Linked DNA regions of Homo sapiens. The protein of the gene in region 4 purifies or fractionates together with the protein of the main gene of each other region. This does not show direct contact. Each region holds a gene or a part of one and is shown on either strand. Other genes may lie near its edges. The genes, in order: RFFL, CLTCL1, USP15, EEF2KMT, ECI2, LPL and GTPBP1.

Region 1 (3,898 bases), on a different chromosome or scaffold from region 4:
GCCTTCAATGGTGTCCCACCACCCTTTTTTTTTTTCTTTTTCTTTTTTTTTGAGACAGAGTTTTCACTTTTGTTACCCAGGCTGGAGTACAGTGGTGCAACCTCGGCTCACTGCAACATCCACCTCCCGGGTTCCAACAATTCTCCTGCCTCAGCCTCCCGAGTAGCACGGATTACAGGCATAAGCCACCATGCCTGGCTAAAATTTTTTATATTTTTAGTAGAGATGGGGTTTCACCACGTTGACCAGGCTGGTCTCAAACTCCTGACCTCAGGTGATCCACCTGCCTCAGCCTCCCAAAGTGCTAGGATTACAGGTGTGAGCCACCATGCCCAGCCCCACCACACTTTTGAGTGAAGGCTAGACTCACTATCTAGCCCACAAAGTCCCCATGTGATGTGGGCTCTGCTTGCCTTTTCCACTTTACCTCATGCAGCTCTCCCACTTCACTCACCTTGCTCTGTCCTTCGGTCACCTTCCTTCAATTCCTCAAAAATTATAAATTATTTATTGCCCCAGGGCCTACAAACTTGGGTTCCTTTTCTGGCTGAAACATTCTCCCTAGCTCTTTTCACAAGACTGGCTCCTTCTCAGACTGCAGTTCACCTTCCCTATAACATAGCTGTCTGGCACACAGTAGGAGCTTACCAGGTATTTGTGAAAGGAACAGATTTCACATTCTCCAGTCAGGTAACTCCCAAAAGTGAATATCTGGAATCAATCTCACCCTTCAGATCAGTGCTTCATTTCTAAATGCCTGCTAAATTTCCATACCTCAAACTTAGCATACTAGATATAAAACCAACTCTTCCATTTTCCCAAACCAGTTTCTCCAGTTTTCTGAAATTACATGAGCAATATGATCCAGTTTCCACTTCAGAACAATAAATTTCCCATTCATTTGCTCTACCTGTCCAAAATTCCAATCACCTTTAAAGCTAAATTCAAATATCACTTCATTCAATCATGCATTCAATCAACCACTTATTCATTCAACAAGTACTTACTGAGTGCCTTTTATGAGGCAGACACTATGTTAGATACTCGAAAGCAAAGCAGATGTATTTTTGTCTATTATACATCAAACAATCATATAAATATTGAATTATGAACTAAAAAAAAAGTAATGAAGGAAAAATGCCAGAAAACATGAGAAAAAAATGAGAGGCATCAAGAAACACTGTTCTGATGATGGGCTGATTTAATGAAATATAATTTACACTAGGCAGACTGGAAAGAAGAGCATGCTAGATAGGATTCAATCAAGTCCTAGAAGCAGGAGAGATGAGATCTATCTCAATGTACATATCATCTTGCCTTACATATTATATCTATCTATCCCCCCCCACCATACTCATTTTACTGATAGTTACCTGAAAGAAAGGACATAGAGTGTCTCTTATGTGCCAACACAACACCCCCAGGAGACACTGAGTCACTGGTCTGGTACCTAGGAGCTTATGCTTGTAAAAAGCTCCCAGATGACTCTATATGCAGCCAAATTTGTAAATCATATGCCCAAACTACCCATTTAATAAACATATATTGATTATTCTTTCATGAAAAATCTCTAAGGTCAGTGTGGTAAATTGTATCTAAAATTGGTGGTAGGCCAGGTGCGGTGGCTCACGCCTGTAATCCCAGCACTTTGGGAGGCCAAGGCGGGCAGATCATAAGGTCAGGAGTTCAAGACCAGCCTGACCAACATGGTGAAACCCCGTATCTACTAAAAATACAAAAATTAGCCAGGCGTGGTGGCAAGCAACTGTAATCCCAGCTACTCAGGAGGCTGAGGCAAGAGAATCACTTGAACCCGGGAGGCAAAGGTTGCAGTGAGCCGAGATTGCGCCACTGCACTCCAGCCTGGGTGACAGAGCGAGACTCTGTTTCAAAAAATAAAGTTGGTAGTAATAATCCCAATCACATTGCATGCCCTTTTGCAATGTGATTTTTACCCTCTATCCTTTAGAGGTGAAGTCAATGTCCCCTCCTCTTGTATCTGGGCTATAATTGTGACTTACTCTGACAAAAAGAATGGGGCAAAAGTGATGATGTATGACTGCCAGGCCTAGGTCTTATGAGATCCTGCAGCTTCCATTATGGCCCAGCCACCATGTAAAAGAAGCTCGAGCTAGAATTTTTTTTTTTTTTTTTTTTTGAGACGGTCTCGCTCTGTCACCCAGGTTGGAGTGCAATGGCACAATCTTGGCTCACTGCAACCTCCGCCTCCCATGTTCAAGCAATTCTCCTGCCTCGGCCTCCCAAGTAGGTGGGATTACAGGTGCCCACCACCATACCCAGCTAATTTTTGTATTTTTAGTAGAGACGGGGTTTCACCATGTTGGTCAGGCTGGTCTGGAACTCCCGACCTCAGGTGATCCACTCACCTCGGCCTCCCAAAGTGCTGAGATTACAGGCATGAGCCACTGCGCTCGGCCACTCGATATAGGTTTATAAGTGATGAGAGACCAAGAAAGAGAACTCACAGAGAACCAAGATATCCCAGCCAACAGCTAGCTCCAAAGGTACAGACATGTGCAGCCTTCTTGGATCCTCCAGCTCAATCAGCATCATATGGGACAAAAAAAAATATGTCCTCCTTTCCTGAATTACTAACCCACAAAATCATAGGCAATAAAATGGTTGTCATGTTATGCCACCAAAAGTCTTCGGGTAATTTGTCACACAATAGACAACTGAAACAGTCAGAAATTCAACACTCTCTTGGGCAGTCATTCAAACATTTCCCCACTTTGATGATCAAAAAATTCTTTCTCGTATTCATCAAAATTGCTCCTCCTTCAATTTAAGACCATTTCCTCTTAAATCTTTGAAGTTCATGAAGAATAATTAATAAAAATCCCCCTGGCAAAACTATTCTTGTATTTGAAGATGATAATGAAGTTATCTCTTAGCTTTTCTTTCTCTAGGCTAAAATCTTTCCCCCCTTTTTAAAACTTATAATGATAAGACCTGTTTTTCAACCTTTTAATCATTTTAATTATCCTCTCAAGTATGAGAGACCCAAAATTGAACACCATATGCCAATATCTAACAGAGATTATTTCCTAGCTCTAATGGTTCAGCTTTTTATAATGGAATTTCTCATAGTCCCAAATATGGCATTTTAGCACTCCAAAAGTTGTGAAGTGATCTAAAAAGTTAATTACTTACTATAACTGTAAAAGGTTTTCTGCCCTTAACACTCAGCTTACTCCATTTTGGGATGACCGCTTTCACTCACCAGCCTGGTTTGATACTCCACCAGGGCAGCAGGTTTTCACAACTTCCAGATATTTGAAGTATAAAAGAAAAACCTGAGAGGTTGGAGTACGCACACCATTAATTTCAATCAAGGTCTCTAACCACAACCAGGGCCTTCCCATAGGTCAGGCAGGTTCAGAGTACCTCCTCCTCCTACCTTGATGATAAAGTGGCCTTGTAAAAGGCAAGACCGTTAGCACTTGCCTATCGAGCAAAGGCACCATTTCTGTGGAACCTGATAGAGTATATTTAACTACTATATTAAGAGACAAACCAGCTGCTTAATGCAGTGTAAGAACCATGTTTTCTCTCTGAGTCTTACCTAAATGTATATATGCTTTGGTATCAGACTAGCTTTATAATCACTGGTAAAATAGGGATAATAAATAAAGCCTACCCAACGCAAATAAAACCATATGAGGGAAATAATTTTGTAAAACACCATAAAAATGTCGTGATATTGCGGGACTAGATCTCAGCAAACCCTTTAAATCTTCAAATTAACTTTGAATGATTACTTGATGGTGGCAGGTAACACATACAAAATAAGCAGCCATGGGCTCATGTTCATCAAATAGGAATGAAAAACCATGCCATCTAACAAAAAAGCTTCTAATATTGCAAAGAATAACGG
Region 2 (3,898 bases), on a different chromosome or scaffold from region 4:
TAGATCAGTGTCTTTTCCCAGCTTTACTCCTTGCTCCTACTTTTTCCCGTGATGGATAGTTGCTTTTCAACCCCTTTATGTGGAAATTCTCTGTATTTTTGACACTCAGGGGAACAGGAGAATGACCTAGTTATTTTCCAAGTGTTAGCAATCTTTAGAGTGGTGCATCGTTGTGGACAGACTCTTCCTTGTTCCCAGTGGCTTGTCAATTTCTTTGGCTCCTTATCGGTGGAGGATTCTGTGGAGTGTCTGCATGCCATGCTGTCTGCTAACATCAGACAGAACCTTCAGCTGTGTGTGCAGGTGGCCTCTAAGTACCACGAGCAGCTGGGCACGCAGGCCCTGGTGGAGCTCTTTGAATCCTTCAAGAGTTACAAAGGTAAACCATGCAGCCTCTCGCCGACCCCACCATGTGACTACACCTCCTTTCTCAGGTGTTGCTGCCTACCTGCCCGCCTTAAGACGGCCTTCCTGCAAAGCCAGGCAGGATGCAGCACTGGCTGCCTTGGGTGCTCAGTCGGTGGCAGAATGCTACTGCCATCTCATGTGCACCCTCAGCTTCAGTAACCTTTTTGGTATTTCCAAAGGAAGAAATCAGGTTGGTTGGTGATGGGATGGAGAAACTTATGGAGCCCGGTGTGTCTACGCAGCACAGTCTGGCAAGAATTCATCTAAAAGCCTGTGTCGTGGGTACAGTGAAAGGGCCTGATGTCTGGTCTTTACAGCCCCAGGAGGGAGGCTCTTTGGGCCTCTCCTAAATGAGAGCCCACGATAGAGGGTGCATTGCTTTGTGGTGTCTGCTACCCAGTTGATTGTGGGGGGCTGACAAGGTAACCTGGTTGTCTTCCTTTCCCCTTCTTGGACATCACACCAAAAAAGTGTTCTAGGGCAGTTGGGATGGGAGTGGCTTTGTTAGGGACAGATGGGGGCTGTCTGGCCCACCCAGGATAGAGACTAAGCATTTGTCTAGGCATCAAGCCACTGCCATGTGTCCAGTGAGGTTGGGGCATCGGTGGAGGGTGGGACATGACCCTGTCCTCAGGGAACTGGCCTTCTCTTTAGAAGACACCCCTGTAGGAAAGACCATGGCAGACGATTGAGTGGAGCTGGGCTGGGAGAGGGCAGTAGAGTAGGTTGGTGGAGAACCGTCAGCCCAGGGGCTGCCCATTCCCTTCCTAGCATCAGGGTCTCACAGTTACAGTGAAAGACCTCGACAGGGAGGGGCCTTCTCAGATGTGTCGTACCCTGTTGTTACTGGTGCCTCCTGGCTGGCCTCTGTAATGATGAGGAACATCATTAGCCTCTGTGAATGCTGTCCTCTGGGGCTCACCCTGGGGCTCAGCATGTGGTGCCCATGTCACTGTCAGCTCTGTGTTGAGTTGCAGGCCTCCTCCTGGAGGCCATGGCTTATTTCTCTGTCCCTTGATGTGTCTTTTTAGAGAAGCAGTCCCACCACCATTTCAGATTACCTCAGTGGGAATTACTCTTGATGACGACTATCTAGGTATACCTGGGCCCACAAAAGGAATTTCACTTGTACCAAATATCTAGTATTTTACATCAAAACATGCCAGGTATACCTGCCAAATATAATGGAAATCCGACTAGCTATTTTTGGGAGCTGCCAAAACAGACAAATGGCATATTGATTATGAGTTCTGAGTGTGCTGTGGGTCCCTGGAGAGTGGAGCAGGGTCATCGAGGGAAGGTGGGCAGCAGCTACGGAGGAGACAGGCAGGTGTTACAAGGACAAAAATGGAATGGTCTCTCTTCATAGGCCTCTTCTACTTCCTGGGCTCAATCGTGAACTTCAGCCAAGACCCAGATGTGCATCTGAAATACATTCAGGCTGCCTGTAAGACAGGGCAGATCAAGGAGGTGGAGAGGATATGCCGAGAGAGCAGCTGCTACAACCCAGAGCGTGTGAAGAACTTCCTGAAGGTGTGTTCCAGTGCTGCCTCCTTCCATGAGCTGCCCTTGCTGATGGCAGGTGGGGCAGACCATCCGCAGGACGTCCCAGGGGCAGGAAGCTGGATCTGTCTCGCCAGGGACCCCTTAGTCCCAGGGACAGAGCTCCACTTTATGGCTTAAAGTTCTAAAGTAACCCTTCTATCGTTTTAAGAGTGTGGAAAGCAGCTTGAGGCTGTGCTCTAAGTATCTGGCACTTATTGCTGCATTGTAATTCATCAACATCCCATTAGTGCCATTGTCAATTAGGCAGGCAAAGCTGCAGAAACAAGTAGACCACTCAGCACTAGTGTCATAAAGAACAGGAAGCCTACTTCCTTATGTGGCAGTCCAGGGTAGGCTGGAGGTCAGTGGGGTGACTTTCCTTCCCACTGTACTTCAAGGACCAGCTTCATGGCTGCTTTGCCGTGTTCAGCACCTCACCTGGATGTCGTCTTCCCAGTCAGCTAGAGGAAGGGAAGAGCACAGAGGAACCAGCATAGGTGGTTTTTATGGGCGAGGCCTGCAAGTGGCAGATGACACTTGGATTCACGTTCCATTGGAGGAAATGAGGTCATGTGGCCACACTTAAAACTTCAAAATGTGATCTAGGCACGGGACCACATGAGGGGAGGCATGATTGTGGTGGCCTGTGGCTGTCCTACCCAAGTGCCATCATCATCTGGGAATGGTGGCCGGGTGTGTTTCCATGGCCTGCGGCTGCGTGTCTGAAAAGGCAGCCCTTACCGCAGGTGTGCTGTTCTTGAGAATGGCCTGGTTTCTGTTGGGTTTGCACATAATGAGCTGCTTGTCTTAAAAGATATTTTTGTCCAGATTTGGAATGTTAATGCCAAATGTAGCAGTCTTTAACCAAATACTAATATCTTTCTCTCACTTATTTCCCAAAGCAAATGCCATACCACAAAACGACAGCCTATTTAGAGCAGTCTCATTCTGAGTCTCCTGTGTGTCACTCTGCTGCAGAGACAGAGCCGTCCCATGTGTGCAATGAGTCCGAGGTCTGGCTGTCTGGTTTCTCCACTCCCTGACTTGTTCTGTGCATTCTAATCCTCAGGAGGCCAAGCTCACAGACCAGCTTCCCCTCATCATCGTGTGTGATCGTTTTGGCTTTGTCCATGACCTTGTCCTATATTTATACCGCAACAACCTGCAGAGGTACATTGAGATCTACGTGCAGAAGGTACTGCTGGCTCCCTGGAGTGACACCCGGCTGCCTCTGGGCCCCAGTCAGTGGCAGTCTTCCCCTCAGAGGCTGCCTGTAACACCTGACATTTCAGAGACTATCATTTTGAAGGGTGGTGGGTTCGTGTGCTCAGACTGCCAGAGTAGAAGACCACAGTCCAGGCAGCTGAAACAACACACATTTATTTCTCACAGTTTTGGAAGCTGGAAGTCCATGATCAGGGTGTCGGCAGGGCTGGTTTCTGGTGAAGGCTGTCTCCCACGCTTGCAGACAGCCTCCTGGCTGTGCCCTCACAGGGCCTTTCCTCTGTGCATGTGCACTCCTGGTGTCTCTTCCTCTTCTTAGAAGGACACTAGTCCCATTACATTAGGGCCCCACCCTTGACATTGATTACCTTCTTAAACACCCTCTTTCCAAGTAGAATCCCACTAGGGGTTAGGACATCAGCAGGTGAATTTTGGTGGGACACAGCGCAGTGCTAAACAGGAGCCCTTTCAGGGTTTTGCCCAAACTGTCCACGTCGTAGGAGGCTTCTAACAATAACTTGTGTTTGCAACACTGAAGTTACTTGACCTTGACTACCCTAGGTCAACCCTAGCCGGACCCCAGCTGTGATTGGAGGGCTGCTTGATGTGGATTGTTCTGAGGAAGTGATTAAACACTTAATCATGGCAGTGAGAGGACAGTTCTCTACTGATGAGTTGGTGGCTGAAGTAGAAAAAAGAAATAGGTAAGGTGTCCTTACTT
Region 3 (3,898 bases), on a different chromosome or scaffold from region 4:
TGCAGATAATGACTGTCTCATGGTAACTCGGGTAACTAACTTCCATACCTAGGCAAGTATAAAGATTTATTTCATTCTGTGTAAGTACTACAGTTTCTCTTTATTTGTAAGCAGTGAATGATTTTTATCTAAAAACTGATTTTCTAGAGATGAAAATAAGTTACACAAGTGTGAGATGAAGAGAAACATACTTTATGATGTATTTAGTTCTAGACTTTATATTGAGAAGTAAATCAAAATTAATACGAGAGTAATACCTTTTTAAAAAGCAAGAAGAAGGTAGCACTGATTTGTATAAGGAATAAAGCAGTCTCAAAATGATATTTGTTGATCTGTGTTTCAATTTCAACAAGAGATCAGAAAAACACGAACAAAATTTAGAGTTTAGGAACTATAGGAAAGAGATAAATGAACTAGAATTGTATCGCTTAGGATGAATTAAAAACAATTTTCAGATACATGGTGGTTTCTTCTGATGAGACAAAAAGATAATTTGCTTAAGGTACATATGAGTATTTTAGGAACATATTTAAGGAATGGTAGTTAATGAGTTACAAAGAAAATTATGGGTTATAAAATACTCTCTTTGGAAAAAAAGTTTTTGAAACAGAGTCTCGCTGTGTCGCCCAGGCTAGAGTACAGTGCGTGGTCTCGGCTCACCGCAACCACCTCCAGGGTTCAAGTGATCCTCCCACCTCAGCCTCCGCAGTAGCTGGGCCTGCAGGCACATGCCACCACGCCCAGCTAATTTTTTATTTTTAGTAGAGACAGGGTTTCCCCATGTTACCCGGGTTGGTCTCGAACTCCTGGCCTCAAGTGATCTGCCTACCTTGGCCTCCCAGAGGGCCGGGATTACAGGTGTGAACCACCTGCAAAATTTCTGGCCTGGAAATTTTTAAAGAAATGGGCCTATTATGAGTAAGTAAAACATAACCACAAATCATCCAAAGCACTGCTTCGTTTCCACCATTTTTATTAAATGTTATTCATCTGCCAATCATTTTCAGTAATTTTTATGTGTGATTATGTTAAGTGGTAATGTGTAGTTAACTTTTGCAGTTTAGCAAAACATTGCATGCCATTTTTGTATAAACCCTAATAACTGTAGTAGGTAACTTTACAGAGTAAGTAATTTGTGTGTGAAGTCATTTAAAATCTCTGTGACATTTTCATTTCAATAATTGCCAAAGAATCTGATCAGTGAAGTTTTAGACAAGAGACATTGATTTCAGTTTTTAGAGCTTTCTGTCCATTCCGACTTTTACTTAGAAATCTTTGAGGCTTAATTTTATTTGATCCCTTATGTTCGTGCAACTTTGAAACTAAAAGAAAATAACCTTATACTCACAAATCCCTTAATAATGAAAAGGAACACTATTACTCAACATGAATTTCAAAATATTTAGTGTATACTTAAAGAAATTTTTATATTACTATTACTTTTAAAATTAGTTTCAGTAGTGCCAGGGTGTTTACGACCAGAGTAGGGTATATACTACATCATTTATAGGAAATGAAACTAAAAGGAAAAACTTCTTCAGTCTTGGTAAATTGGTGAAAACAAGGACAGAGATAGTGACCTTAAGGCATGTTTCACATCTTAGATGCTTAAAAATCTAGGAAAGCAACTTTTCTTAATTTAAGCCTTTTTCGTAAGTTTTTAAATGACTTCTGTTAGTGAGTCCAGGGTTAATGTACCCTAATAGTCCAGGAAGGTCCAGAGCTAGTCAATGATTTCGTTTATCTGTTTTGTGAAATTAAGGCTTTTTTTCCTAAATTATACCATTTTCCTGTTAGCACATATAAGGCATTAAATGACCTTTTTGCAAAATGGTTTTGTGACAGTTAACAATTTTGCTTCTACGTAAGTGTAACAAGATAAAATCAGTTTGTCAGGCCATGACCTGTAATATTACATTTAAAAACACTATGTGCCAGGTACTGTTATAAATGCATATTGACTTATTTACTCATCACCATATTACCACAATTCTGGGAATCGGTGTTATTCACATTTGACAAAATAGGAATCATAGGCTCAAAAAGGTTTTCACATAGTGGTATAGCTGGGATTTGAACCCAAGTAGTTTAGGTCTTTGGTTTGTGCCCTTAAAGCACTGTACCACATTGCCTCTGATTTTATTTAAAAAAATTTTTTCTAGAGACAGAGTCTCGCTTCATCACCCAGGCTGGAGTGTAGTGGCATAGTCATAGCTCACTGTAGCTTCAAACTCCTTGGCTCAAGCAATTTTCCTGCCTCAGCCTCTGAAATAGCTGGAACTACAGGTGTGCGCCACCACACCCAGCTAATTTTTAAAGTTTTTGTGGAGACGGGATCTTACTGTGTTGCCTAGACTGGTTTGAAACTCCTGACCTCAAATGATCCTCTGACTTCAGCCTCGCAAGTATTAATAGCTGGGATTACAGGTGTGAACCCCTATGCCCAGCCTCTGTCTCTTATTTTAAAGATTCATTTTTTAAAAAGTAGATTCACTTTAAAAAGAAAAGAACCTATTTTTCTTTTTAAAGGAAGTCTATTTTATATTTAGTAGCAGAATTCTACCATTTGCCTCTTGTGACTGTTCAGTTTAGATATGATAGAACATGTAGGAAATCTTAACACCTTGCTTCTGGATATTAAAACATGCTTAAAGATTGATAGGTGAATAATTGAATGTACAGAGCAAATGTCATTTTGATCCACAAGTACATTCAGACAAAAAAATTTGAGGTCATTTACTATTGAGCTTTTGAATTTTAATTGTCTATCAATAATCATAAGCTCTTATTAGAGATGATATGGCCCCTTCACATATAGTTTTACAGAAATAACCCATGAAGCATATAGTAAGATCTTGTAGGCTATTTTGTTTCGGTACTTGGTCCATATTTTAAAAGTATGGTATTGGTTTACTATAAGCCACAAATACATACGGCTTTCTTCTTGGACTTAAATCCATATGAACCACTCAGCACAGAAAATGCAAATATGAATGCATTATTATGTTCACCAACTGATTTTTTCCCTAGAGATAACTCTTAAAGAATTTTTGAAGTGAAAGAACATTTAAATTAAGATAGTGGAAGATACAATGATAATAAAACAGTCAATTTTGCTATCTTAGTCTTGAATTTATCTTATGATGTGAGTTTAGAGTGATTCTTCTTTTTTTCACTGAAAATCACTTCATTAATAAGTCATGATTATTGACAAAAGTAAATTGAAACCATTGGGCATATTGGTAGGGAAATAAGGGGAAGATAGAGAACAACTGATAAAGGTTGATTATGTGCATTACGAGATTTGATCCTCAAAAGAAGGACCAAAATATATATATTTATATGACTTATAGATGAGGAATCTGAGAGAAATTAATTTGCTTGCTCATAGTTTACTACCAGCGGACATTTATTAAATGCTTAGTCTGTCGCAGCCACTATTTTAAATGCTTTACACTTACATAGCCTTTAAAGTACATGCTCTTATTACACTTCATTTTATCTTTGATGATTTCAGAGCTGGTTTAAATACCTGGTTTATAAAGATTTAAAGTACTAGATACTATCTAATACTAAGAATAGATCCTTAGTATTAAAAATGGTTTTATGCTGTCACTACTCGAATGTAATTCAAACAATATTTCATTAAACCATGGGAATTTCTCTTTTTTCTTAGTCCTTGTATAGAATTTTTCAACAATTACTAAATACTTTTTTTCTTCCCTGAGTAATGTCAGTCTAGCTTGTTTCTTTTAATTTCCTCACTTACCACTGTAATTCACATTCTGTGTCTCATATTCATTCCTCTGAAGCCACTTCGCCAGACTCGTTCTCCCATTTATCCTTTAAACAGGGGAATGTAGATCCTTTAGATTTTATCACCCAGTTTACACAAAAG
Region 4 (3,898 bases):
TAAACCATCCACAGCAAAAACAGAGATGACAGGTGCAAAACAGCTTCTAGCATTTGGTTGATGTTCAGAGACTTTCTTTTTTGCTTTCATGAGGCCTGTCCTGCCCACTCCTGTCTCCTCTAGACCTAAATGGGCCCTTGCTTTGCCCAGGGTGGGGTTTGGACTCAAGTGCATCTGCCTGCAGGTGAGAGGCAGGATCACCACCCGGCCCAGCCACAGCCTGACCTTGGCCTTGAGGGCCAAGTGCAGATCACCCTGCATCCTGGGTCTTCACGTTCGAAGGGCCATGAGCCCTTCTGAAAAGACCAAGCAATAGACTCCCTCGCAGAAAGAAGTGCACCAGAAGAATACATTTTCCATACAAACTCAGGAGGCAGATATCCTCCACCCCCACCCACCCAGCCCATCCTAGGAGCCCCGGTGAAGAATTCCTGTGCTAGAGGTGAACCAAGATTATCCATGTGGAAAAGATACAGCCACAGCAGGGAAAACTTTCGGGGCAATACCAGGGCTTCGAGCATGGAGATACCTGAAGTTATCTCGCACCCTGCTCTGAGTTTCACCCTGAGCCTCACTCTCGTAGGTGGTGAAGCATGAAATGTAGGGAGAGCTGCTTTAAAACCCAGCACAAGGCTGGGTGCACTGGCTCACACCTGTAATCCCAGGACTTTGGGAGGCTGAGGTGGACAGATCACCTAAGGTCAGGAGTTCCAGACCAGCCTAGCCAACATGGCAAAAACCCATCTCTACTAAAAATACAAAAATTAGCTGGGCGTGGTGGTACATGCCTATAGTCCCAGCTACTCAGGAGGCTGAGGCAGGAGAATCGCTTGAACCCAGGAGGCAGAGGCTGCAGTGAGCCAAGATCGGGCCACTGCACTCCAGCCTGGGCAACAGGGCGAGACTCTGTGTCAGAATAAATGAAAAACCAGCACCAGCCTGAAGAGCCTGTGTATTGCGTGGGGTACTTTGCTGCCCTTGGGCAGAATCTGCATCCCTCCCAGCCAGCAGGCACTGTGGACCGTCTCCTCCCTCTCCCTCCAGGCTCCTGTTTTCCCGCCGTCCCCACTCCTGCTGCACCAGTCCCTCTGCCCTCCTTTCCAAGTGCCAGGCTGTGGCCACCTCAGAGCTTGCACCAGCTGTTCCCACTGCCTAGAACTTGCTCATCCTGCATTTGGCTTCTCTGGGCTTTAGCTGGAGTGTCACCCGGAGCGTCCCGTCCCCTCCATCCTGTCCCCAGGGACACACACTCCAAGAGAGCAGTTGCCGAGTGGGCCTTCCCGCCTCTTCCATAGAGCCAGACCGTTGGCGACTGTCCTTACTGCAAACCCTGGTTCACACTGGCTCCCCTGGGAGGGAGGCGGTTTGGGCCCACATGCCCTGTGTTCCTGCTCAGAATGGGCGTTAGAAATGCTGCCATAGCCTGTGCCACTGCAGTGGAAGCATTTTTAGGAAACAGCTTATATCTTAAGACAAACTTCAGATGCATGGGGCCAAAACGCTGTGTCCATCTACATCTTTGCTGAGGGATCGGGTAGCCTGGAGTTTGCCCTCTGCTGTGTTGGCTTGAAGCTCATAGGAGACTTAAGACGGGCTCTCGAGCAACCAACGTTCTGTCCTTTGCCGTAGACTGTGAAGCATCCTGTGTGTGTGAAGCACCCGCCGTCCGTCAAATATGCCCGGTGCTTTCTCTCAGAACTCATCAAAAAGGTCAGTTATGGGCAGTGTCCGCCCAGTAGCCGGACAGCATAGCCACCTGCGTGCTGGAGCCCCCGTCCTTCCCAGGCCCTGGGCCTGCTTTGCAAACCCCAGCATGGCAGGGGCCTCCCCAGGCAACTGGCTGCAGCCACATGTGACCCATGGGAGACAGTGCAGGGCGGGAAGAAGGGGAGGCCAGCATCTCTCCCTCACTCTGCCTCCTGGGGTTTCCACGGCAGCTGCTCCTCTGGGGCCCCAGCTCCTAGCATATGGATTCTCATTCCTACCAGGCTGGCCCAGCCCACAGCACTGGAACCCTCACCCGCACCCTCTGTCCTGCCCGCTGAAGGGTTTGGAGTTTCCTGCTCTTGTCCGTCTCTGGGTTGCCCCACAGGCCCCTGTTGGAAGATTTAGCTCTTGCCATACCTTCGGAACTAGTTCCTCTGGTGAATTCTCTGCATTAATCCTGCTGGAATGAGCTCTTTCCTGACTGATAAAGGATGAATTTTATTTTTTACTTATTTATTTATTTTTTTGAGACAGAGTCTCACTGTGTTGCCCAGGCTGGATTACCGTGACACAATCTCGGCTCCCTGAAACCTCTGCCTCCTGGGTTCAAGCAACTGTCATGCCAGCCTCCTAAGAAGCTGGGACTACAGGCACACGCCACCATGCCTGGCTAATTTTTTATTTTTAATAGAGACAGAGTTTCACCATGTTGGCCAGGCTGGTCTCGAACTCCTGACCTCAGGTGATCCGCCTGCCTCGGCCTCCCAAAGTGCTGGGATTACAGGCATGAGCCACCGCACCTGGCCTAGGATGGATTTTAAAGATGCGCCCGAACATGCAGGGTTTGACATGAGGATGTCGAGAGGCCTCCTCAGTAGGCAGTAGCAGACCTGCTGAGTGAAAGAGCCACACTTTTAGCAAATAAACAATCCCCTGCTTCTCCAATACCTGCTTTCTCCCTAGTCCTCCCCAGAAGCATGCATCTGTGGTCACCAGCAGGTCTGCCCTGTGCCACCAGGAGAGGGCAGCAGTCACCCAGTGTACTCTGCTGCTGCCCTGTGAATCATAGGACGGGGCCAGCTGTGGAGAAGCGGCCTGCTGACAGCCACAGCCTGCAGCATGGGCCGCCCTCACACTTCTGCCTGGGCTCACTTAAAAGCACCTTTTGTTTTCCTCCTCTCTGTGTTTGATCCAAACACGGCTCTCTATCATGGTCACCTGGCAACTCTCACGGAATCCTTGTCTCCTGCCCTAGACTACACCTAACCCTACCCTCCCAACACCTCTGGTTCAAGGCCCTCCCATCCAGGTTTCCCTACCAAGTGAATTTTTTTTTTTAGAGACAAGGTCTCTGTTGCCCAGGCTGTCCTCGAACTCCTGGGCTCAAGCAGTCCTCCCATGTCAGCCTCTAGAGTAGCTGGGACTATTCGGCACACACCACCAAGCCCAACGAAGTGAATATTTTATATGGCAGCTGGCCGGTATTATACCATTCCATCGCAAATCTCCCCTCCAAACTTGGTGAAAATCATCTGGCCATTTTTACAGATTAGAACGAAAGCAAACAAGCTCTCACTCTGTCTGCCCCCAGCACGAGGCTGTCCACACAGAGCCTTTGGACGAGCTGTATGAAGCGCTGGCGGAGACCCTGATGGCCAAGGAGTCCACCCAGGGCCACCGGAGCTATTTGCTGGTATGAGAAGGGCACCCTCCTCCCCCTCACAGCCCAGATACCCTTCCTGCACAGACAAAGTGAAAACGTGGGTGTGGGTTCAAATCCTGACTCACCCATTCTACAGTCTTAGACATGAGGTCCGTCAACCTTCTTTAGCCTCAGTTTCCCTGTCTGTAAATCAGGCACTTCAACAACAACAGCATGTCTCGTGGAGTTGTTGGGCACTTATCCAATAGGTGACACACACTACCTGCTTCACAAGGACCTGGTGCCCAGTCCTCAAAGAATACTTGACAGGGCTGGGCGTGGTGGCTCACGCCTGTAATCCCAGCGCTTTGGGAGGCCGAAGTGGTTGCATCTGAGGTCAGGAGTTCGAGACCAACCTGGCCAATATGGTGAAACCCTGTCTCTACTAAAAATACAAAAATCAGGCCGGGCGTGGTGGCTCATGCCTGTAATCCCAGCATTTTGGGAGGCTGAGGCGGGGGGATCACCTGAGGTCAGGAGTTTGAGACC
Region 5 (3,768 bases), on a different chromosome or scaffold from region 4:
TTTAATTTTTGGCATTGTTTTTGGTGGATAAAATATGATAATGGGCATTAAGCACTAGTAACTGCTCAATTGAAACGAATGCTTATTTCTATTCTTATATTTTCTATAAAACTGAACATCTTGGATTACAATTACTGGAATAAAAAATTTAGAACTAAAAAGTTAAGAGATTTGGTGAGTTAGCTAACTTTGACCTTAAAGGAAAGGTCAAAAGGAAGACTAAGAAAAGCAAAATATCCCATCCTTTTCTGTAGCCCTTGGAATTACACCCTCAGTCCTTGTCAAGTGATAGCTATGAAATCAAAACAGGGTGTTACAAGGACAATCAAGGCAGCTTGCAGGGATGCCTTTCATAAAGTACCACATTAAACAAGAATGGGACTCTAACAAATAAGAAAACAATTACTCATACAGAGCATTGCTTTCCAATGAAATGACCCAGTTTTCCCTTCATGCCTCTTTATTAAATTGTGCAAAAAAACCCAACTAAGATTCTTATTTGGGTTCTTATTCTTATTCTTGATTCTTATTTGTTTTCTAGTAATACTATTCCTTCCATTTTGCTCCCTTGCTACATGGCTGAAAAAGAACATGCAACCCACTGAAGACCTCAAGTCAGTGATCTGTAGGCTGTCAGCATTTGGCCCAATTCAGTCAGCCACTGTTTGTGGACGTCAAAGTGCTATAGTGGCATTCAAAGACATGACTTCAGCCTGTAATGCTGTGAGTGCTTTTCAAAGTAGGACCCCAGGCACCATGTTCCAGTGTTCCTGGCAACAACGATTCATGTCAAAAGACGTAAGACTCTCTACTACCAAACACCTGTGTGAATTCTTAAGCTTGTTTTACAAAACTTTTTATTCATCAGAGCTGTAGTGAAATATCATCATTGTAATTGATATTCTAGCACTACAAAAGGCACAATGAAGCTTATTTAGTTCCAGTACTGGAAATCAGAGGTAACAGCACATCCTTCCTTGGACATGCTTTACTCTGCTGTAGTGGTCATCACAGTTTTGATTTTCTGGATAAGAAGTTCACCACAGCATTTGTGCATTCATCTGATAGCCATCTTCCCTGAAGGACATTGCATTCTTCAGCATTAACAGCGTGTAGTTTTTCTCTCTCTCTTTTCCTGATTACCTCTTTTGAAATTCTCAAGGCCTGGAAAAACAAAACCAACAATAAGGTTAAGAGTTGACCTAGGCTGGACGTGGACTCATGCCTGTAATCCCAGCACTTGGGGAGGCCGAGGCGGGCAGATCAGTTGAGGTCAGGAGTTCAAGACCAGCCTGGCCAACATGGTGAAACCCCATCTCTACTAAAAATACAAAAATTAGCTGGTTGTGGTGGTACATGCCTGTGATCCCAGCTACTCAGGAGGCTGAGTCAAGAGAATTGCTTGAACCCGGGAGGCGGAGGTTGCAGTGAGCTGAGATCGCACCATTGCACTCCAGCCTGGGTGACAAGTGAGACTCTGTCTCAAAAAGAAAAAAAGAGTTAATCTAATAGGAGTGAGATTATTCTATGATTCTGGTTCTTGTTTCTCCCATGTTCATTTAATAAATCCTGTTAAATCTTTTTTTTTTTTCTGAGACATAGTCTCACTCTGTCGCCCAGGCTGGAGTGCAGTGGTGCAATCTTGGCTCATTGCAACCTCTGCCTCCCGGGTTCAAGCAATTCTCCCTGCCTCAGCATCCAGAGTAGCTGGGATTACAGGCGCCCACCACCACGCCTGGCTAATTTTTGTATTTTTTAAATAGAGATGTGGTTTTGCCATGTTGGCCAGGCTGTTCTTGAACTCCTGACCTCAGGTGATCTGCCCTTCTTGGCCTCCCAAAGTACTGAGACTACAGGTGTGAGCCACTGTTCTCGGCCCTAATGCTGTTAAATCTTAAGCTGCATGTGTAATATAAGACAGTGCTTCTCAAAATTCAGTGTGCATATAAATCGCTTCAGTAGGTGTGGGGCAGGCCTGTGATAATACATTTCCAAAAAGCCTCAGGTAGCTGCTCAAGCTTCTGGCTCCAGGACTACATTTTGAATAGCAAGAATATAAAAGCAATCAGTCACTCACTACCACATACAAAAACAAAAGTGCTATACAATAAGACTCTCAAAGTAGCTAATCCATGCTTCTCACCTGGATTCCAAAGTAAAAGTGCTCAGCAAATACTGCCTAGCATCCTGCTCAAGTAATCCCCATACAGAATTGCCCTCTGTCCCCACACAGAAATGGAAGGTCTATTTGATAAGTTTTGTAAAAATCAGTACTGCATTTCCAACATTACTACAGTTATTTTTTAATTCCAAATTTAGATGTGCTTAGAGGTAACTAAAGATGTGTCTTGTGCTTTTTATGACTTATTCTCTGAAGGCAAATAAATTTTTCCCTTAGGAAATCATTTTCAAGGTTCTTAGAAGTAAAAGATGAATACTAACATTTGGGGGAAGCTTTGCAAATGCCTTCAGCCTGGTCCAGACTTCTTTCTGAAAAGTGCTATCAGGGAAAACTTCAGTAACAAGTCCTTGAGCACATGCCTCTCCCGCTGTTAACTTCTTTCCAAAAATAAGCATCTCTGTTGCCTGAAATGAAAAGCAAGAAGCAAGGTTAAGATACTAACTTAATAAAACAAGGCTTCAGTTAACTGCTTTCAGGAGGCTTAGAGAGATGTACTCATGGTCTTTTGAGGTTGCTGGTATTTCTCAGTAAGGGAGAAGCTGATGACCTCAATAGGCAACGGTTTGCAAACTGTGTGCTGAGACAGGCTCCTGGGAAGGTCTATAAGGGCTGCTGCTTCTGTGTATCGTTGTTGGAGGGGCAAGATCAGGGGGTCCAGGGCAGAAATGATCTGAAGCAGATGCTTGATTCTATAACCCACAGCAGCTATGATTTTCCATTTGATACACTATAAACTATTATTTTACAGAGGAAAAAAGGAGAGAAAAATTACGGTCATTGGGTCAACCTTTAGAAACTTTCAAAATTCCATTCTCTGGAAACTACCCAGTGATCTGGCTCTGAGAGTTTTCTTTACCTGCATTGGTACTCAAATTAGTTCTATTTGACTAAAGGAAAGCAAAGACTTATAGTTAGCTTCCGAAAAAACTGAGGACATTAAGTGGATATCCTCTCTCCATTTGCAATTTCTTTTCCAGAAAAGGAATGCTCTTCTTTTTTTTGAGACAGAGTCTCACTGTGCTGCCCAGGCTGGAGTGCAGAGGCACGATCTTGGCTCACTGTAACCTCCACCTCCTGGGTTCAAATGATTCTCCTGCCTCAGCCTCTTGAGTAGCTGGGATTACAGGTGCCCGCCACCATGCCCCGGCTAATTTTTGTATTTTTAGTAGAGACAGCATTTCACTATGTTGGCCCGGCTGGTCTTGAACTCCTGATCTCAAGTGATCCACCAGCCTTGGCCTCCCAAAGTGCTGGGATTACAGGTGTGAGCCACTGCACCCAGCCAAGGAATGCTCTAATAGCCAAATGCTCTAAGACTTGTAGAGTCAGTTCTGCCCCCTTCCCAAGTTCAATTCAGGGTATGTGATAGCCTAATGAGAGTAAAAACATACATATATAAGTTTTTAACAAAATCCTAATAGGCAATGAAAACAAGCTCAATTCCCACTGCCCCACTTTGAGATCTTGCAGCAATATTTGCTAAGCCTTTTCCTATAGCTCAGCTTCTGGTCTTGTCACAATCCCCTTCGAGTCATGCCACAGGGCGTGGGCAACTAGGAAACACAGTGAAAGACCTGAGCAGCCAC
Region 6 (3,898 bases), on a different chromosome or scaffold from region 4:
CCAGCTACTCGGGAGGCTGAGACAGAAGAATTGTTTGAACTCGGGAGGTAGAGGTTGCAGTGAGCTGAGATCGAATCACTGCACTCCAGCCTGGGCAATAGAGAGAGACTCCATCTCAAAAAAAAAAAAAAAAAAAAAAAAAAAAAGAGCTAACACTTTGTCATGGACTTCTTACTACTTATATTTTCTGTACATATTATATGTACATCTATAGAGTGGTTTCCTGTTACCATTGCTCATTTTCTTTAATGTCAAACCTTTTGAGATAGTTTAATTATATTGTTTAACAGCAGCTTTATAAAAGAAATAAACAGATATAAGATGATAAATAAAAAAATATAACTAGTAAGTGAAAATAAAATGGCCAATTTGAAGCATTTTTTTCTCAATATCAAATAGAGGAAAGACCTCAATTTTGAAATTCTGATTTTTTTAACTAAAGACTTGTTTTCTAGGCATCGCTCTCTGCTTCTGCTGCTCAGACCAAGGGTTATGGCAGGAGAGGGACTGGTGCCATGATGACCGCCCCCCTGTGCTACTCACAGAGTGAATGGGATGTTCTCACTCTCGGCCACGGTGCCATACAGAGAAATCTCAAAGGCCTGATTGGTATGGGTTTCACTCTCAGTCCCAGAAAAATGAATCTTTACTTGGTAATGGAAGACTGTTGGGGAGGAAATTCGAACATGTTGATCAATCTTTATGAAAATATCACAACCCCAAATAGTCAGGCAATTCAGAACCACAGAAGTATCTCACTAGCACTCAAACCGGAAGTGCACACACATGGAACCACTGGTGTGGCTTGGAAAGACTTCATCATGCACAGTGTTCATACCTAGAAAATGCAGACCTTGAATTCTACTCCCTTTCAGAAAAGTGTGGTTATATGCATAGGAAAAACCCAAATGTGTCTGAATTGCCAAGCAGCATTAGGAAGTAGCCATCTTTGAGGGGTGCTAGGGAGATCAAATCAGAAGGCCAAAACACTCATGATGCTTTCTCCATGAACTCCGCCATCCTTGGCCATCTTGTGCCTTAGCATCTGGAGCAAGCATATTTGACATTTGCTTCTGTGTCACTATATGTCACTGTGTTTGTTTCATGAGTAGGTCTGTCCTCCACCCTGACTGTAAGCGGGCTTCCGGTCACAGGATCATGCCCATGCTCTTAATTCCCCCACCATCTAGCGCAGATTAGGTGTCTAGTAGGTGCATCATAGAACTTATTTCGTTGATTTTTCCATTCCGTAATGGGCACACCAAAATCTCACAAATCACTACTAAAGAACTTACTCATGTAACCAAACACCACCTGTTCCCCCAATAACCTATGGAAATAAATAAAATTTTTTTTAAAAAAGAACTTATTTCATTGAGCCATCAGTGAGGCCACAAGGACTGCCTTGTAAAGCCAGCCCCTAAAGTATTCTATACTAGGGACAGCCTCTGGAAGCAGGTAGTTGAACTTCTATATCTCCTCCCTGCCCCTCCTCTGGTCTCTACCAAAAACCCTGAGCAAATGGGCCTGGGGAGAGGTTAAAAGGAAAGGCAGCAGGACTAAAATAGAACCATGATGATGGAGGAAAAAAGAGTTCTTGGAGGCCAGGCATGGTGGCTCATGCCTGTAATCCCAGCACTTTGGGAGGCCTTGGTGGGTGAATCACCTGAGGTCAGGAGTTTGAGACTAGCTTGGCCAACATGGTGAAACCCTGTTTCTACTAAGAAAAATACAGAAATTAGTTGGGCGTGGTGGCGGGTGCCTGTAATCCCAGTTACTCAGGAGGCTGAGGCAGGAGAATCGCTTGAACCGGAAAGCAGAGGTTGCAGTGAGCTAAGATTGCGCCGCTGCACTCCAGCCTGGGTAACTGAGCGAGACTGTGTCTCAAAAATAAATAAATAAATAAATAAATAAATAAATAAATAAATAAATAAAATAATTCTTGGAATGTTTTTTCTTCTATATCCCACTATCCTTGGTCAGATTTTTTTCTTATTTGTGTTACTGTCTATTAAATGTATTTTCTCTTAAGCTGAGACACAGATCTCTTAAGACTGATGGTTTAGAATATAGCAGACCATATTTTTATGCTGCTTTAGACTCTTGTCCAGGTGAAAAAATTTTTAATAAATGTTGTGAACTTCTGATAACAATCTCTATTTTGTTTAGATACATCTCTTTTTATAATTAAAAAGTAGTCAGATACTAAGCAAAAACAGAAGAACAACAACAAAACCCCACAGCTGCTAAAAGATGAAGAGACATTGAATTGAGAATTAAGCAAAACCCTTGCAGGCAGCAGGACAGGCCAGAGCTGAAGAAGCTGGGAGTGGTGAGGTGCCCCTAGGGGACACTGACAGAGCCTTGAACCCACTGGTGCAGGAGGCAGGGATGAGTGAAGCCTGTCTGTGTCTTCAAGATTATGGTCCCACAGTCCTCTCTTTACCTCATACGCATTGCCTGATTTTGAAGAGTTAAGGTTTCCTTGAAGCACAGGTGCCTCAACCTCTATACCACGAAAGACACCTCTACAGATTCTAAGAATCACCTTACACATGGGTGCCATATGTTTTACCTGGGGCCACTGTTCTTTAATATCATCCCTTCCCTCAGGTTTCCATCTGGATTCCACAAAAGCCACCCTTCCTGAAGTTGGTCCCTCTCACCGGATTTATCCGAAGACCTCCTCTCTCATTTTCCGACCATTCCTTTAGGTCTGCCTCTAAACAAGAGGCCAAGCTTGAAATTCAAGTGTGAAACAAACTCCTGGCAAAATGGCAGTATCTTAGAAGGTGTGAGATATTCTTGCCTTCCAGGAATAGTTGCATTTAAAAAGACAGATGAGGCCAAGGAGGGCAGATCACCTGAGGTCAGCAGTTCGAGACCAGCCTGGTCAACACGGTGAAACCCCCTCTCTACTAAAAATACAAAAATTAGCTGGGCATGATGGTGCATGCCTGTTATCCCAGCTACTCCGGAGGCTGAGGCAGGGGAATCATTTGAACCCGGGAGGCAGAGGTTGTGGTGAGCCAAGATCATGCCCCTCTCCTCCAGCCTAGGAGAAAGCTAGACTTCATCTCAAATTAAATAAATAAATAAATAAGACAGATGGTCCTTGCCTTTATGTAAGTTGTGAACATTCTGTAAAGGGCCAGGGAGTAAATATTTTAGGCTCTGTGGGCTATCAACTCTGTTATGGTGGCATGAAACCAGCCTTTGACAATATGGTAATGAATGTGTGTGGCTGTGTCCTAATAAAACTTTGCATGAGCACATAGAGGGGAACAACAGACACTGGGGCCTCCCAGAGGGTGGGAGGAGGGAGAGCTTCAGGAAAAGTAACTAATGGGTACTAAGCTTAATACCTGGGTGATGGAATATTCTGGACAACAAACTCCCATGTCACAAGTTTACCTTTTTAGCAAACCTACATACGTACCCCTGAACTTAAAAGTTTTAAAAAAACTATTTACAAAAGCAGGAAGTAGGCTGGATTTGGCACAAGGGTTATAGTTTGTTGACCCGAGGTGGATGGTTCCAAATGAGCTCTGAGCTCTGTGCTGATAGCCTAGCCCATGCTAATGGCCACATTTACAGGGGAGGGCAGCGAGCAAGGCTGCAAATCCCACACTGAGCACTGGGACCTTGCTGACAATGGGAATTAGAAGCCTCAGACAAATGGATCAATGCAACCCCCTATCAACAGAAACACCAGGGCTCAGGGTTTAGTAACACCAGTCATCATCTCTGTTCCAATGGACAGAATCAGTACATGTGATGCAGTGAGCATGATGAAATAGGACTCCTTGGTTTCCTTATTTACAACAGTCTCCAGCCTACCTTTGTAGGGCATCTGAGAACGAGTCTTCAGGTACATTTTGCTGCTTCTTTTGGCTCT
Region 7 (4,694 bases), on a different chromosome or scaffold from region 4:
AGCACCACAGCCAAAGCTGATCAATATAGCCTAACCAAAGATCCTGACTGAACCCCATAGCACCCTCATCTAAAAAGGCTGCACAGCCCCTTCATGCCCTCTCTGCTTCTCCTGAAGTAGCCTTTGAGCCTCAGGCCTTATATGAGCCAAATAATATACTACAATGTGTATGTCTGAGCCATAACCCATGGTAAAGAGGGCACAAGCAGCCTGCCTCCTGCTGCTTAACAGGAAGGGCAGGACCCAAGTGACTGAGAATATGGCACTGTGGATAGAAAGCGCAGTGCTTTCCATCTACATGCCAAAGTCTTCTACCTGCAGTTGGCATCTGGAAGCCCACAAGACATATACCTCATATACCTCCATGCCCTCCACCCACAGGCCAGTGGCTTCCAGGATAACAAAAGAATTCTGTTCTATCTTGTCTTAGCTATATTGAATATTTGGGAATGAAAACTGCCTGCAAGACTCATCTTCATCAACAAAGCACCATCACCATTACCACTACGAGGAGTATTAGCACCGTCATTTTGCAAATGTCTGCCAATAACATTGAAGTGTCAACCATTTACTTGGGTAAGCCATTTGGCAATCAGACCCCATTCTCTAACCACTCCTGTGTGACCTTGGACAAAGAATTTAACCACTCTGAGTTTCAGTTTTTCAATCTATAAAACGGAGCTAATACTACCTGCATCCTAAGGCCACTGTAAAGAGCAAATATAATAACATGTAAAGCATCTAGTCCACAGCTCAATAAATGTGAAACTACAAGGTTTTCTTCACCCAATCATTCCCAGAAAAACCTTGTTGGATGAAACTAGCCACCACTATTCACTAAGTGTTTCTCCCTTTGGAAGCTCTCGGAGCCTTAGGTCTCCACATTTTCTATCGTAAGGACATGAACCTTTCGCTTCTAATCTGTTCCTCCGGAATCAATCTATTCAACCCAACCCTTCTCTCCCTCCACACCATCACTTTTTCTTTTTGATATCATCGATATTAATATACATATGATTTTTTTTAATTGTAAGGAGGACTTCCCCAGCTATGTGATGAAATAACACTTCTAGGAATATTAAATGAGCTGGTCAAGAAATGAAGGTACTACCGTCTTTGCAACTCTGCCCTGCAATTTCCTATCATGTTTCTTCAGCACCTTGACCATGTGTTGACATCCAGTTTGTTTGCTCTTGAGTCAGGTCCATAATCTTGTAACTTCCTGAGTTGACTCATCAGAGCTTGTAATTGTAACCTGGATGTTTCCTGGGTCTTTTACATCGTCCTGGCCATCCCTCTCTCTAAGTTTGGCCATCCTCATTATGGCCTTACAGGCACAAGACAGGACCAACTTTGACAGGCTAGCTGGCTTCCAAGTGCTCACCTGAGACTACAATGGCAAAGAGCAGTTGAAAATAACTTGCTTAGGTTGCAGGGAAAGTTCCTCCCCAGTTTAGGACCAAGTTTCATGCAAATTTGCCGCCATAAACTATAAAAAGTCACAAACATTTTCAAAGCTGGATAAAATGTCTATCGTAACTATCCTACAAATGTAAGTGGTGGTATTGGTGTTCTATCTTTCACCCACTGCTATTTAATCTGCACAGGAAATTAGGAACTATCTCGTTCACTTCAAACATTTACTGAGTCTCTAGTATGCATCAGGCACTATTAGGTGTCTTCTTAAATATTTCTAATTTTTACAACCCATCTGTACTTTCTTAAGATGAGGTGGTTGGAGAACTGAAAGGTTAAGAAACTTTCCCAACGTCACAGAGCCTTTCGATGGTAGGGCAGGAAAGGGAACCCAGCCCTGTCTGACTCCCAAGTTGGCATTCTTTCCCTAAGGAACGTTAAGCACCTTCAAAACACCAGTCACATCTTGTATTTACTTTTCTATTCTTCACAATGTCAAGCCGTTGGCGAGGCCTTAATTCCTGCCTACCTTCTCGACAGCTCAAAAAACACGGTTTTAAACGTCCTTCACTGCTCCACTCATACAAGATGAGCTTCCACTCACAGGATAGCGAGACTAAGGAGCCTGACCATCTTTCCATTTTGTTTCGGGTGGCCTCGAAAAGTAGACATTCTCGGACATGCTCCTCCCCAGCTGAGCGACTACTTTCTGTTTCCTTTCCCGAGTCTGGGAAGAGACGCGGCGGCCACCCTGCCCTGGCCTCCGACTACCTGTCTTCATGAGCGTCTCGGCCCCCTGCCCGGGCCCCCTCGCCCCTCTGCTGTCCCGCGCGGTCCAGGGAGAGGAGACTCTCGGTCTCCGAATCCCCTCAAGTGGGGACCCGAAGAACGGGGAGGGGCACTGAGCGGGGACAGGGAACGCGCGGAGCGCAGCTGGCATCGGGCGCCCCCGTTCCACGTGGCAGAGCCGAGGGGTTACGATCTCGGCGGGAGACGGGAGGGCGGGAGGCTGGGTTGGCGACGCGGGGGAGCCAAGGTGGGTGCGGGGACCATGGGGACGGCCCCTCGCGCCGCGAACCCCCGCACGTCCCGGAGACTAGCAGGTGGGCGGGCTCGGCCCCTTCTTCCCGTTCCGCGCTCCCCGCGGACAGGGCGGCCGCTGGCCCCGCCGTCGCCCGGGAGACTGCTCGGCCAGCCGCCCGCTCCCCTCAGCGCCCGCCGCCGCCGCCCGGGCCTACCTTGCTGGTGAGGTCCAGCTCTGGCTCGCCGTTGAGCGCCTCGCCGTCCTCGCTGCAGTCCGAGTCAAAGCCGCCGTGGAGTCGGGCGGCGGCCGCCGCGGCCCTGGCCGCCCCCGGGGAGCTGGGCTCGGGGGCGAACATAGAGGCCGGGACCGGCGAGTCCATCGCGGAGCGACTGCGCTCCGTCGCCATCTTTAATAACTTAGGCTAATTCGTAGCCGGCTTCCCTCCCTCCCAGGCTCATTTGACTAATCTATGCACAGAGCCCCGCCCCGCTCCTTATCGGAATAATTTATGCAAAACTCCAGCCGCGTACTGGGTGACACGTACCTCTAGCTAAGAAACAGTCGACTAGGCCTCTCAGCCACCAATCCCTGCAGAGCTTTCAAGTACCTAATGAATAATTAATGAGGCCCAAATCCCAACAACAAATGTCTGAGACGTCACGCGCCCTGCTCCCAGCTTGGGAGGGGGCAGTACCGAGTCCCCGCTACCCGCCTGAAGCCTTCCCGCCAACGGAAGCAGAGAAGTGTCTGACTGACACAGCAGCCATCCAATGAGGAGAGAAATACAAACAACGTTACTCGTCAACGCCCCTTCACTCTCCTTGTTTCCAGAGGCGGTACTAAGCCTGCAAATCTTACTGCAAAACAGTAGGCGCTGTAAGCCTTCCGATGACGGACAAGGGCAGGACCCAATCGAGTCATAGAACAGGTCCCGCGCCTGGACCTGCTCATGGAGATAGTAAACTGCAAAATGAGCCTCCCACTCGATTCAGTGACTGAGGCAGTTGCTGGAACGCCGATGTCCAACGTGCTGGCATGCTCCAGGCAACTTTAATAGTAGGATCGATGCTGTAAGTTCCAAGAGTTGTAATACTATAGCAGCCAGAGTGAGGCAATAATTAAATGCTGACCTTAGGGAGAATTCTCCATTCACTGCCTTTGCGGAGGCAATCACACGAACTAAAAACAGAGGCAAGCAGCTAAAATTAAAAGCCAAAAAACACCTCACCACTTTTGTGGTGAACTGCTAAACCGAAATCTAGGGTCTCATAAGGTAGTTTCCTATGGATTATTTTTCCAGTGTCATCAGTTGTGAAAAGCCCCAACCCAAAATGCCATCAACACACGTTTTAGTGTCTTGAATTCCTGTTTCAAAAGCCGGAAAAGCCTAGGCCGTCATTGTTTGGCGAAATTAGGGATTAACCAACGTCTATGAATGTCGGCCTTGGCCACTCGAACCAGGCATCAAGCAAACAAGAGCATGTTTGAGAAGATAAGGAATCCAAGACTTAGGGTTTGGACCTAAACCCTAAATCTTTAGTGAGCAAGTGGCAGGATTGAAAATGGCTTTCAGTTTTGGGGATCTACCTGAGAAGAAAGAGACAGTCTCTTCTTGTCCCTGTTTTCCACTACTATCAAGTCTTATTTGCACAAACACAGCTGGGAATCTTGGACAGGAAGTCATCTGATTCCAATGGTCTTGATACTGTTCTTATGTGCTTTTTAATTTCTTCCTTGCCAAATTGCTCACCTCCATCCTATATGGGCCGGGAGCAATGGCTCACACTTGTAATCCCAGCACTTTGGGAGGCTGAGACGGGTAGATCACCTGAGGTTAGTAGTTTGAGACCAGCCTGGCCAACATGGTGAAACGCTGTCTCTACCAAAAATTAGCTGGGCGTGGTGGCATGTGCCTGTAATCCCAGCTACTCTGGAGGCTGAGGCAGGAGAAGCCCTTGAACCCGGGGGGGGGGGGGGGGGGCGGAGGTTGCAGTGAGCCAAGATCACACCACTGCACTCAAGCTTGGGCAACAGAGCGAGACTCCCACTCACAAAAAAACAAAAAAACAAAAAAACAAAAAAAAAAAACAACGAAGTACTGGAGGCCTGAACTCATAACTGGCTTCTAAAGGAGGGGCACAGTTTTGTGGGACTGAGCCCTTAATCAGTGGGATCTGACAGTATCTCCAGGTAGACAGTGTGAGACGAATTGAATTGAACTAGAGGACATCCAGCTGGCGTCCCCTGCAGCACT

The links.
Region 1: the proteins of EEF2KMT (region 4) and RFFL purify together in Homo sapiens (co-immunoprecipitation; one large-scale study listed by IntAct). This does not show direct contact.
Region 2: the proteins of EEF2KMT (region 4) and CLTCL1 purify together in Homo sapiens (affinity purification with mass spectrometry; one large-scale study listed by BioGRID and IntAct). This does not show direct contact.
Region 3: the proteins of EEF2KMT (region 4) and USP15 purify together in Homo sapiens (affinity purification with mass spectrometry, with the first as the bait; one large-scale study listed by BioGRID). This does not show direct contact.
Region 5: the proteins of EEF2KMT (region 4) and ECI2 purify together in Homo sapiens (affinity purification with mass spectrometry, with the first as the bait; one large-scale study listed by BioGRID). This does not show direct contact.
Region 6: the proteins of EEF2KMT (region 4) and LPL purify together in Homo sapiens (affinity purification with mass spectrometry; one large-scale study listed by BioGRID and IntAct). This does not show direct contact.
Region 7: the proteins of EEF2KMT (region 4) and GTPBP1 purify together in Homo sapiens (affinity purification with mass spectrometry, with the first as the bait; one large-scale study listed by BioGRID). This does not show direct contact.

Annotation. Positions count from the first base shown.
Region 1 is NC_000017.11:35,056,881-35,060,778, forward strand, and holds part of RFFL (E3 ubiquitin-protein ligase rififylin), read right to left. Parts: intron 1-3,898.
Region 2 is NC_000022.11:19,221,934-19,225,831, reverse strand, and holds part of CLTCL1 (clathrin heavy chain 2), read left to right. Parts: intron 1-198; coding exon 199-379; intron 380-1,777; coding exon 1,778-1,941; intron 1,942-3,022; coding exon 3,023-3,148; intron 3,149-3,738; coding exon 3,739-3,881; intron 3,882-3,898. UniProt on the Homo sapiens protein: Clathrin is the major protein of the polyhedral coat of coated pits and vesicles. Two different adapter protein complexes link the clathrin lattice either to the plasma membrane or to the trans-Golgi network.
Region 3 is NC_000012.12:62,263,404-62,267,301, forward strand, and holds part of USP15 (ubiquitin carboxyl-terminal hydrolase 15), read left to right. Parts: intron 1-3,898. UniProt on the Homo sapiens protein: Hydrolase that removes conjugated ubiquitin from target proteins and regulates various pathways such as the TGF-beta receptor signaling, NF-kappa-B and RNF41/NRDP1-PRKN pathways.
Region 4 is NC_000016.10:5,091,296-5,095,193, reverse strand, and holds part of EEF2KMT (protein-lysine N-methyltransferase EEF2KMT), read left to right. Parts: intron 1-1,629; coding exon 1,630-1,710; intron 1,711-3,298; coding exon 3,299-3,400; intron 3,401-3,898. UniProt on the Homo sapiens protein: Catalyzes the trimethylation of eukaryotic elongation factor 2 (EEF2) on 'Lys-525'.
Region 5 is NC_000006.12:4,114,866-4,118,633, forward strand, and holds the end of ECI2 (enoyl-CoA delta isomerase 2), read right to left. Parts: intron 2,587-3,768; coding exon 2,443-2,586; intron 1,165-2,442; coding exon 1,009-1,164; 3' UTR 841-1,008; downstream 1-840. UniProt on the Homo sapiens protein: Able to isomerize both 3-cis and 3-trans double bonds into the 2-trans form in a range of enoyl-CoA species. Has a preference for 3-trans substrates.
Region 6 is NC_000008.11:19,956,026-19,959,923, reverse strand, and holds part of LPL (lipoprotein lipase precursor), read right to left. Parts: coding exon 3,841-3,898; intron 665-3,840; coding exon 544-664; intron 1-543. UniProt on the Homo sapiens protein: Key enzyme in triglyceride metabolism.
Region 7 is NC_000022.11:38,704,108-38,708,801, reverse strand, and holds the start of GTPBP1 (GTP-binding protein 1), read right to left. Parts: upstream 2,859-4,694; 5' UTR 2,847-2,858; coding exon 2,655-2,846; intron 1-2,654. UniProt on the Homo sapiens protein: Promotes degradation of target mRNA species. Plays a role in the regulation of circadian mRNA stability. Binds GTP and has GTPase activity.